Linked DNA regions of Homo sapiens: region 2 is linked to region 1. Evidence: fine-mapped expression QTL. A gene starts in region 1. The other region holds a variant in brackets. All regions are shown on one strand. Distances are between the middles of the regions.

Region 1 (5,307 bases):
CCTCTTTTCAATCCCACCCACTGGTGCTGGAGTAATCTTTTAAAAAACATATTTTTGAGCATATCATGTTCCTGTTTATATGGTTCCAGAATAAAGTCCAAGTTCCAATTTTTTGTTTTGTTTTTTTTTTTTTTTTTGAGACGCAGTTTCACTCTTGTTGCCCAGACTGGAGAGTGCAATGGTGTGATCTCGGCTCACTGCAACTTCCGCCTCCCAGGTTCTAGAGATTCTCCTGCCTCAGCTTCCTGAGTAGCTGGATTACAGCCATGTGCCACCATGCCCAGCTAATTTTGTAGTTTTAGTAGAGCCGGGTTTTCTCCATGTTGGTCAGGCTGGTCTCGAATTCCCGACCTCAGGTAATCCGCCCTCCTCGGCCTCCCAAAGTGCTGGGAATACAGGTGTAAGCCACTGCGCCCAGCCTCCAATGTCTTCTTGATGTCACCCTAATCTACCGTTTCAATCTCATTTGCAACCATGCCCCTATGCTGGAACCAGAAAGGCTATTCACAATTCTCTAAACCCACCCACTTCTGTGCCTTCTCTCATCCGTTTCCCTTGCCTGGAACACTGGAACATCTACTCTCAAAATCACCAAACAGGCGAGTTTGGTGAAAAAGGAAGCACCTTTGTCTAGAAAGGCTTTTCTCAAAATCACTCTTTACCTTTCCCCAGCAGCCTTTCTCTCACTTAGCTGCAATCATCTCTTCCCTCCACTTGGTCCTTGCAGCATTTTATTTGTATCAGCCAACAATTTATTTTGTATTGCTGTCTTATTTCCCCTGCTAGATTGTAAGCAAGGTTTCAAATATTGTATTCATCTCTAGTTTTTCTTCCTCCACCAGAGAGGGTCTAGTGAATGGCTGTGTTTTCAAATGTTCTGAATAGAACAGAACTTTGAAGAAATAAAAGACAGAGCCAAGATATAGCCGAGCAAAATAAGGAAAAACAAAATCAGGAATGCGTCCACAGCTCCTGATTCTACCGAATACTCTCTCATACAGCCTCGCAAGATACCCTGCTTTTCCACACAGGAAGGTCGCTTTCTTCCTTTCACATTTGATGATTTATTAATCAACCACAGTGCTGCTCAAAGTACACAGAGGGTTCGGAAGAATGAAAGGGAAAAAAGTCAGGGTCTTAATATCAAAGATCTTAACTTCAGAGGGGTGTGTCAACACATATTCCATTTGTGCTATGTGTTGCGAAGCGTAGCAGCACGAGAGAACTCGGGGTCTCTGATCATGATCATTAGTGCTGAGGCATCTAAAAAAGATGAAAATAAATTAAAAGCTATGTAGGTAATCTTAGAACCCCTAGTAAAAAAAAGTCTGTTGTGGAGTAGAAAAATTAAAACGACCGCGAAAATGAGACCTAGGGGATTGAAGTAATGTGCGCTTGTAACATCAGTAATCCCCTCTCCAACGCGGGTCCTGCTTGGGACTGACTCCACCAATCCTTTTAAAAATGAAGACATAAAAGCCATATTCCTTTAAAAAATTTCCACTGCACCGTATTGCAACGTTCGAGCACTGAGGACATTTTCACGTGGTCACAACCCTTTTTAACACCCGGACACTGGGCCGGTCCTTTCTGGCCACGAGGAACTCGCTTCCCTAAAGGAGTACCGCATCACCGAGGGCGGGCGCCTCAGCCCGGGAGGACACTCCCCAGGGTAAACTACAGGCCTCACAAAGCGGAGGGAGCTGGACGCGAAGGCTCGGCAGCGGCGCCGACAGGCTTACCCCAGGCCCACTCTAGGCCGCACAGGGTTCGCGCCACCTCCGGCCCAGGACAGCTCTCAGACGCTGCCAGCGTGGAGCTCGACCCGGCTCACAATGCGCTGGGCCCCGCAGCGTGAGCGCAGGCGCCCGAGAGGCGGCGGGGGTCGGGCGGACGGCGCGCTCCAGCCGAGCCGCCTCCCTCTCTCGGCCCACACCCGCGCGGCCGCCCTTCGCCTGCCGGGGAGCTGCGGGTGGCTGGAGGGCGGGAAGCGACCGGCCAGTCTGCACCTGCATGACCCGGTCGCGCGCCGACCCCTCCCCTCTCTCTCCCGGGCTCAGTCCTCCTTCCTCTTCCGTCCCCCTCCCTTTTCTCCGGGCTGCAACCGGGTTCCGCCCCGCTCGCGCGGCTGCCCGGCCAGCTGTGATGTCACCAGGCCACGCCCCCTAATATAAATACTGGCGTCGCTGGCGCCGCCTTCTCACACTTTCAGGCTCTGATCGCGGCCGCAGTTTTTCCTTTTTTCTTCTGCCGTCGCCTTCTCTGCCTCTTCTCATCCTTTCTCGCTCTGCTGCTCTGCAGTGTGACGAGTCCGAATCCTCTTCCCACCCAGCCCGCGCCTTTCTTCTTTTGCCTGCGCTGTTCTATTTCTCCTTCGGCCGCCGCCGCCACTGCTGCACACAGCTGGTGTCGGTGCCGCGCTTTTACCCCCAAGTCGTTCCCGCAGCCTATGGCCCAGGCCGCCTTGGGTATTTCTGCTCAAGGTAACCACATCCCTCTTTAAAAATTCCGCCGAAAAAGAGAAGACGCTTTACCCGACTCTTTGGGCCGTTATCTCACGTGAGTACCGAGCCGAGGAGCGCGGGAGGGGCCAGGACGCGGGGCTGGCCTTGGGGGGCGGCTGGGGGGCTCCGGCTGGGCCCCGCCGCCCTTAAGACGTCCCCGCAGCGCCCCGCGGCCGGCCGCCTCGAACATGGCGGCGGCGGCTGTCTGTGCCCCCGGCGGCGGCGGCGGCGGCGGGGCTGGGCGGCGGGCCGCGCCTCAGGACCTTCGGGCGGCTGCTGGACGCTTGGCGGAGCCGGAGCCGCAGCAGTTGGGGCGAGGGGGCGTGTGCCAGTGGGGGAGCGCGCGGGGGTCTCGCCGCCGGGGGTCGCCGTCCCCTCCTGGCGGCGTGCGGCCCCCACCCCTCTCCCGTGGTGCATTGCTGTTTCCGGGGAGGGGGCCCGGCCGCAGCCCTGAGGGGCCGGGGTCCCGCAGCCCCTACTCCGCGGTGCGCCGCCGCCACCTTTGCCTCCCGAAGCCCGGCGGGCGGGCGGCGCTGTGGGCTGCAACGGCTGGGGTCCTGGTTATGAATGGAGCGGGGCGGGCCCCGCGCCGGCCTCTGGTGACAGCTGCGGAGGAAGTCGGATTCCTGGGGGGCGCGGGGAGCGCGGTCCCCCTCTGGTGGAGGAAAGTTGACGCCACTTGGGGCCTGGCGGCGGGGAAGCCCCGGTGTCAGGTAGCCAGCGAGAGGCTTTTGGCCCCTTCTGGAAGCCTCGAGGCTGCTGCTCCGCCCCTGCGGCGCTCCTGATTGGGTCAAGTCGCCTTCACTCACCCCAGTCACCTCCTGGAGCCTGAGGATTAGTCACCATGGCTTCGTTTTTCCGTCCGCGCCATGGTTCCTAGGCAGAAAGAGGGAGATTGGTAGACGGGTGGCTTATCAACTACTGTCTTGACTGCCAACAGTTGGTGGTGGTAACATGTTCTAACCCTTACACGGTATCCTGAATGTGTGTTTCGTAGACAAAGCTGCTGGTTCAGAAACCCGAAACAGTCGGGGACACAGTTTACCGCCTCATGTTTCAGCACATTTAACTGAATTTTGTGGTGGCATCTTGGTTATATTAGTTCTGTGTCCCGTCGTGTTTCTATCGTGAATTCCCAGACTGGGTGGGAATCTAAGGACTCAAAGGAGGGGGAATTGCCTTGTGCTCAGCGAAGGTTGATGTAGAGGTGCATCAAAGCACAAAGTAGAAGTACATCAAAGCACATCAAATACAGCAAGGGTTGGCAGAAACATGGCTCATGATTGTCTAGAAAGGCCCTCATAATTCATTAATTTCTTTTACATATACGAGAGCGTGCAGATGCTGATCATGATTAGAAATAAGCCCCAAGGAGTTTAGGAAAGACTCCAAAAGAAAATGATTATCGGTGGTGATAAGTGAGGTCGAGTAGTCAGTGCCTTTCTCCCCCAAGGTTTTATCACATACGTTTTCAAACAGAAGGTGAAAAAGAGTTATACTTCCACCTAGATTCTGTAATTAACATTTTACCTTATTTGTCGATGCATTTCAAAGTAAAGTTGGAGACCCCTCCAACTTTAGTATGTGCATATTAAATAGAGCTCAGTACCGCTTACTATTTTTTAAATCTTAGAGGGTAAAATTCACATCAGTATAAACCCACAAGTCTTAAGTATGCAATTTGATGAACGTTGACAAAAATACAGCTGTGTAACCTAAACCTTTTGTCAAGATGTAGAACATCGCCATCACCCTCAAAAGTTTTTTCTTGTCCTTTCAAATCGTCTTCCAGTCACCACAGAGCCAACCACGATCTTGGTTTTTTTTTTTTGGAGTCTAGCTCTGTCGCCCAGGCTGGAGTGCAGTGGCACAATCTCGGCTTACTGCAACCTCCGCTTCCCAGGTTCAAGCGATTCTCCTTCCTCAGCCTCCCGAGCAGCTGGGATTACAGGCGCCCACCACGCCCAGCTAATTTTTGTATTTTTAGTAGAAAAGGGGTTTCACTGTTGGTCAGGCTGGTCTGGAACTCCTGACCTCATGATCCGCCCATCTCGGCCTCCCAGAGTGCTGGGATTACAAGCGTGAGCCACTGCGCCCGGCTGATCTTGATTTTTTTTTTTAAACCCATAGATTATTTTCGTCTATTCCAGACTTTCCACATGAATGGAATCATACAGTATGCATTCTTTGGTATAAAAGGCTTCTTTTAACTCAGCACATTTTTAATATTCATCCCTGTTGTCTTTATCTGTAGATTATCAGTAGATTATTTGTGTTGCTGAGTAGTAGCCCATTAGGTGACTGTCCCTTGGTTGTTTTTTTTAAAAATAAACTTTATTAGGCCGGGCGCGGTGGCTCAAGCCTGTAATCCCAGCACTTTGGGAGGCTGAGGCGGGTGGATTGCCTGAGGTCAGGAGACCAGCCTGGCTAACATGCTGAAACTCCATCTCTACTAAAAATACAAAAATTAGCCGGGCGTGGTGGCTGGCTCCTGTAATCCCAGCTCCTCGGGAGGCTGAGTCAGGAGAATCGCTTGAACTGGGGAGGCAGAGGTTGCAGTGAGCCGAGATCTCACCAGGGCACTCCAGCCTGGGGGACAAGAGCAGCGGGACTTCATCTCAAAAAATAATAATAATAATGAAAAATAAACTTTATTTTGGAGTATCTTAGTTGCGCAGCAAAGTCACAAAGATACAGTTTCTTCATACTTCCCACCCAGTTATTAGTAACATCTTACGTTATTACAGTACATTTGTTAAAACTAAGAAACTGACTTTGGCACTATGAAACGTTCGAGACTTTT
Region 2 (5,376 bases), 22 kb before region 1:
TGGTTAAGCCAGATTGGAACCCATGTCCGAAAGGGCATTCACTCTTCTAAGTATCCCCAGCGCCTAATATAGTGCTCGGAAGGCTGGGTGGAGTGGCTCATGTCTGTAATCCCAGGACTTCGGGAGACTGAGGCAGGCGGATCACCTGTGGTCAGGAGTTCAAGACCAGCCTGACCAACATGGTGAAACCCCATCTCTACTAAAAATACAAAATTAGCCAGGCGTGGTGGCAGGCGCCTGTAATCCCAGCTACTTGAGAAGCTGGGGCTGCAGAATTGCTTGAACCCAGGAGACAGAGGTTGCAGTGAGCCGAGATCGAGCCATTGCACTCCAGCCTGGGCAACAAAAGCAAAACTCTGTCTCAAAAAAAAAAAAAAAAAAAAAATATATATATATATATATATATATATATATATATATATATATATATATATAGTGCTGGGTAAATAGTACAGGCTCAATAAACATTCCCTAAAGGAACGACTGACTGAAGAGCAAAGGCTTGTCAAATAATTCAGGATGGCTGTGAAGATAAACAAAATAATAATGCTATGATTATCTTTTATTGAGCACTTACTTTGTGCCAGGCACTATGTTAAAGGCTTTACATGGGCTATGTGCGGTGGCTCACATCTGTAATTCTAGCACTTTGGGAGGCCGAGGCAGGCAGATTGCCTGAGCTCAGGAGTTCAAGACCAGCCTGGCCAACACATTGAAACCCTGTCTCTACTAAAATACAAAAAAATTAGCTGGGCGTGGTGGCAGGCGCCTGTAGTCCCAGCTACTCGGGAGGCTGAGGCAGGAGAATTGCTTGAACCTGGGAGGTAGAGGTTGCAGCGAGCTGAGATCACGCCACTGCATTCCAGCCCGGGCGACAGAGTGAGACTATGTCTCAAAAACAACAACAACAAGGCTTTACATGTATTATATACACAACATACATAAAAGATTTAACACACAGGATGGCATATAGTAAAGACTTCAGTGTTACTAATATTATTGCATATCACTACAATGGTAGCTATCATCATTATAGTAAAATAGTTTTAATATTATGATCTTTTCCAGCCATACCCTTAGTGCTTCTCTCAGTCTTACTGCACAGGTCAGACTGAGGGTAAGCCCTTGCAGCAGAGAATCAGCTCCAAACCTGGTTCCTCCTTCCATTTCTTTTTCACATAGGCACAATTGCAACATGATGTGTTAGTTAACCTCTAAATTACACAAGGAGCCCCAGTGTGCTTCTCTGTGTTGGGGAGGAAGGGGGTTGCGCTCTTGTGCTCCCACCTGGTTTGCATAACGTACTTTTCTCTTTCAGAGTTAATTGAGAAAGAAGCCATGTGGTCTGTGGCAGCAGCTGGAGGAAGGCATGGTGACTCAACAGGGCTCTGCATGGAAGAGTACAAGGTGGTTCTGGGAAGCAGCAAAGATTGGCCACCCCAAGGCTCTGAGGGAGCCGCATGCAGGCTCTAAGCAGAATCAGGCCAACCCCTGGCCTGGAGGAAGTAGGGGAAGAGAGCTGCCAGTGGCAAGACCTGCTCAGGCTGTGTGAGTGGCTGTGGAGACACTGGGAAGAAGTTCTGGGGAACTGGACCGTGGGGTACTATCCTAGCACTCAAAGTTCCTTGTGACCTGAGCTAGCATATTTTACAGTGGGGAAGTAACAGGTACTGCCCATGAGGATAAGTAACATCTTGAGCTCCAAACCTTGCAATTAAACTTTCAGATAGTAACTGGAATTCTTCATGAAGCCCATGACACAGGCAAGTATTATGCATATTTTTAGAAATAAAGTACTTTATTAGAACTACAGATCTCCACTCTAGTGGTCCTATCATAGAATTCATTATCTATCTATCTATCTATCTATCTATCTATCTATCTATCTATCTTGAGATGGAGTCTCACTTTGTTGCCCAGGCTGGAGTGCAATGGCATGATCTCAGCTCACTGCAACCTCTGCCTTCTGGGTTCAAGCGATTCTCCTGCCTCAGCCTCCCAAGTAGCTGGGGTTACAGGCATGTGCCACCATGCCTGGCTAATTTTTGTATTTTTAGTAGAGATGGGGTTTCGCCATGTTGGCCAGGCTGGTCTTGAACTCCTGACCTCAGGTGATCCACCCACCTCGGCCTCCCAAAGTGCTGGATTACAGTCATGAGCTATCACACCCAGCCACATTATCAATATATTTTGAAACAGGACTCATACAAATATAATATGAAGTCACTGTTACCTCTTATGACTTCAAAGTCTTTTACCAAAAATTCTCAAGGGGATCTTAATCAATCTGCAAAGACTTACCATTAAAAAAAAATTTATATTCTCTGAGGTAGAGTTGATGACCACCTGAGTAGATAGAAGTCAGAGACTGGTGTTTGAGTCCCATTTCACTAGGACTTAATTGTGAGATCTTGGGAAAGTTCCTTTGTTTGTAAAACATGGGGAAAAATTCTTAGCCTGTATCATAAGAACTTTTTAAAAATTCACATGAGATAATGTATGGAAATTGATAAAGCACCATATGAAATTATTGCATTTTACCTACTAAAGAAACTGAGACACAGAGTGATATGGTTTGGCTCTGTGTCCCCACACAAATCTCATGTTGAATTGCAATCCAAATTGTAATCCCCACATGTCAAGGTAGGGTCCT[A/G]GTGGGAGGTGACTGGATCATGAGGGCAGTTCCCCCTGCTGTTCTCGTGATAGTGAGTTCTCATGAGATGGGCTTGTTTGATAAGTATCTGGCACTTACCCCTTTCTCTTCTTCTTGCCTGCTGCCATGTAAGATGCGCCCTGCTTCCCCTTTTCCTTCCAAGATGATTGTAAGTTTCCTGAGGCCTCTCCAGCCATGCAGAACTGTGAGTCAATTAAACGTCTTTTGTTTATAAATTACCAGTTTATAAAGATACCAGTCTCAACAGTATCTTTACAGCAATGTGAAAATGGACAAATACACAGAGTGAACAAAAGATTTGCCCAAAGTCATAATTAGCAAATGGAGAGTCAAAGATGAAATAGAAATTCAAGTGACTGGACATGGTACACGGCAGAGTTGATTCAGATAAACAATTTGCTTTGTTGAAGTCAGCATGCATGTGACTCTAAAAAGCATTAGTCCAGTGAGGTAAAAAGGAGCATTTACTGAGTGTATAGAGAGACCTCACAGTATCGACGGATGGAACACAAAGAGTTGCTGGGTTTCACCCAAATTGGCCAGAAAACTGGGGAATTCTCAGGGACAGGGTGGCTTGTCCCTCTGTGTCCCCCTTGTCTTTGCTTCTCAGCCAGCTCCAGCCTCTCCCACATTCTGTCTGTCTTCCTCGGCTCCTTCATCCTGTGTGAGGCACAACATGGCTGCTCTTTCTGGATCTAGACAAGGAAGACCACTGAGCTCCAGTACTCACAATCAACTGGCAATACACACTAAACTTCTTCTTCATGAACTAGCCTGGCTCCTCTGAGAGAACCTGGACCACACAAGTCATTTCTGAGCAAATAATTTACTCCACCTGGGTCAGGCATGTTCGACGCTGGTCTAAGCAGTGATGGGCTTCCCCACCACCACCTATCCCCAGAAGTCACATTACCTCATGTTATCTTGTACAGCTGTACCTTCCAGAGAGCTGTGGGTGGCAAGGGTGCTATACTGCCAGGCTGGGTGTTATCACATAAAGAGAGGAACTATGTATAGAGAGAGCATGCTTTGGATGATTTCATGATATATTTCAGTTATGAGATTTAAGATCCAAATTTCCTGGTCAAAAAAATCAACTCAGTTTAACTAATATTGTGTTGGGCTCTTAAGATACATGTCCACAAGTTGTGTCCACAAATAACTGTAATATAAGATAGTCTATGAAAGTTTCTTAGAAATTGTCTTATAAAATTACATGAAAGCATAAAAAAAGAATTAAGCCCTCCTGGGGGAGTCAGAAAGCTTTTACTAAGTGCAATTTGAGACTTGTCTTGAAGCTTTCATTTAATTTTTATAGAGAGGTGGAAGATGGGGAAGACACACACAAAGCAGTGGGGAAAGCATGAACAAAATATGGAGAAGTGAAATTACATGTACACTCTGAAAGTGTGAAGAGTATAGTGTGCTGAAGAGCAGCATGCAGGAGGGTGAAAAGGAAACACGTTAATTGACTCATCACAACTATACACTGGAAATTTTCAGGTGACACCTCATTTAATCTTTTTTTTTTTTTTTGAGATGGAGTTTCACTCTTATTGCCCAAGCTGGAGTACAGTGGCGCAATCTCGGCTCACTGCAACCTCCGCCTCCCAGGTTCAAGTGATTCTCCTGCCTCAGTCTCCTGAGTAGCTGGGACTACAGGTGCCCACCACCACACTCGGCTAATTTTTTGTATTTTTAGTAGAGATGGGGTTTTACCATGTTGGCCAGACTGGTCTCGAACTCCTGACCTCAGGTGATCTCCCTCCTTGGCCTCCCAAAGTGCTGGGATTACAGGCATGAGCCACCGTGCCTGGCTGCTTCTTCGTCTTTTTTTTTTTTTTTTTTGAGACCAAGTCTCACTCTGTCACCCAGGCTGGAATGCAGTGGTGCCATCTTGGCTCACTGCAACCTCCAACCACCACCTCCTGGGTTCAAGCGATTCTCCTGTCGCAGCCTCCCGAGTAGCTGGGATTACAAGCTCGTGCCACCACACCCGGGTAATTTATGTATTTTTAGTTGACATCGGGTTTCACCATGTTGGCCAAGCTGGTCTCAAACTCCTGAGCTCAAGTGATCTGCCCACCTCTGCCTCCCAAAGAGCTGGGATTACAGGCGTGAACTACTATGCCCGGCCTCATTTAATCCTTTCAACAATCCTTGAGGTAGTGTCTATTGCCCCTATTTGACCAAGGTACATGAAAGCTGAAGCCACTTTTCTACTGTACCATGTGGGGGCTGAGCATGAGAACAGATGGAGGGAAGGTCTGCCCACCATCTAAGGAGTTCATACCAGATTCTAAAGGCATTGTGAGGTCACACAATATTTCTAAACAAGGAACAGCACAAACAGATCTGAATTTTAGAAAAATAATGCTGGTAGTAATGTAGGGATTAAACAGAATATTCTTTCTCTGTCATTCATTCATTTAATTTTAAAAAATATTGAAAACTTACTGTGGGTCAAGATTGTGTTACAAGGCACTGTGGGAAAAAATGTTACATATGCCAGATGTGGCCACTAATCTCATGATGCTTATTATACTAACTTATATATGTCTTCCTCAACATATATATTCTATAAAACAAATGATGCTCCACTTATGATGGGATTACATCCCAATAAACCCATTGTAAATGGAAAATAGTCTAAGTCAAAAATGCATTTACTACCCTAATAAGCCCATCATAAAGTTGAAAAA

The links. PIP is the estimated chance that this variant, and not a neighbour inherited with it, causes the effect. A credible set is the group of variants that fine-mapping cannot tell apart.
Region 2: its variant is the best candidate, but not a certain one, in a credible set for the expression of AZIN1 in whole blood (INTERVAL, PIP 0.78).

Annotation. Positions count from the first base shown.
Region 1 is chr8:102,861,059-102,866,365 of GRCh38, reverse strand. It overlaps AZIN1 (antizyme inhibitor 1), which reads left to right and starts at 2,203. Exons shown (of 12, transcript NM_148174.4): 1 at 2,203-2,559. It overlaps MAILR (macrophage interferon regulatory lncRNA), which reads right to left and starts at 2,095. Exons shown (of 3, transcript NR_126339.1): 1 at 1,743-2,095. RefSeq lists enhancers at 1,125-1,857, 3,326-4,059 and silencers at 1,737-2,086, 2,747-2,976.
Region 2 is chr8:102,883,090-102,888,465 of GRCh38, reverse strand. The region is part of intron 2 of MAILR (macrophage interferon regulatory lncRNA); the gene reads right to left. It overlaps LOC124902000 (a long non-coding RNA gene), which reads left to right. Exons shown (of 2, transcript XR_007061041.1): 2 at 1,319-5,321. Among named protein-coding and RNA genes, the nearest start is that of MAILR, 22 kb to the right of the region's middle. RefSeq lists a silencer at 2,604-2,653 and enhancers at 3,264-3,453, 4,104-4,303. The variant A/G (reference allele first, on the strand shown) is at 2,654.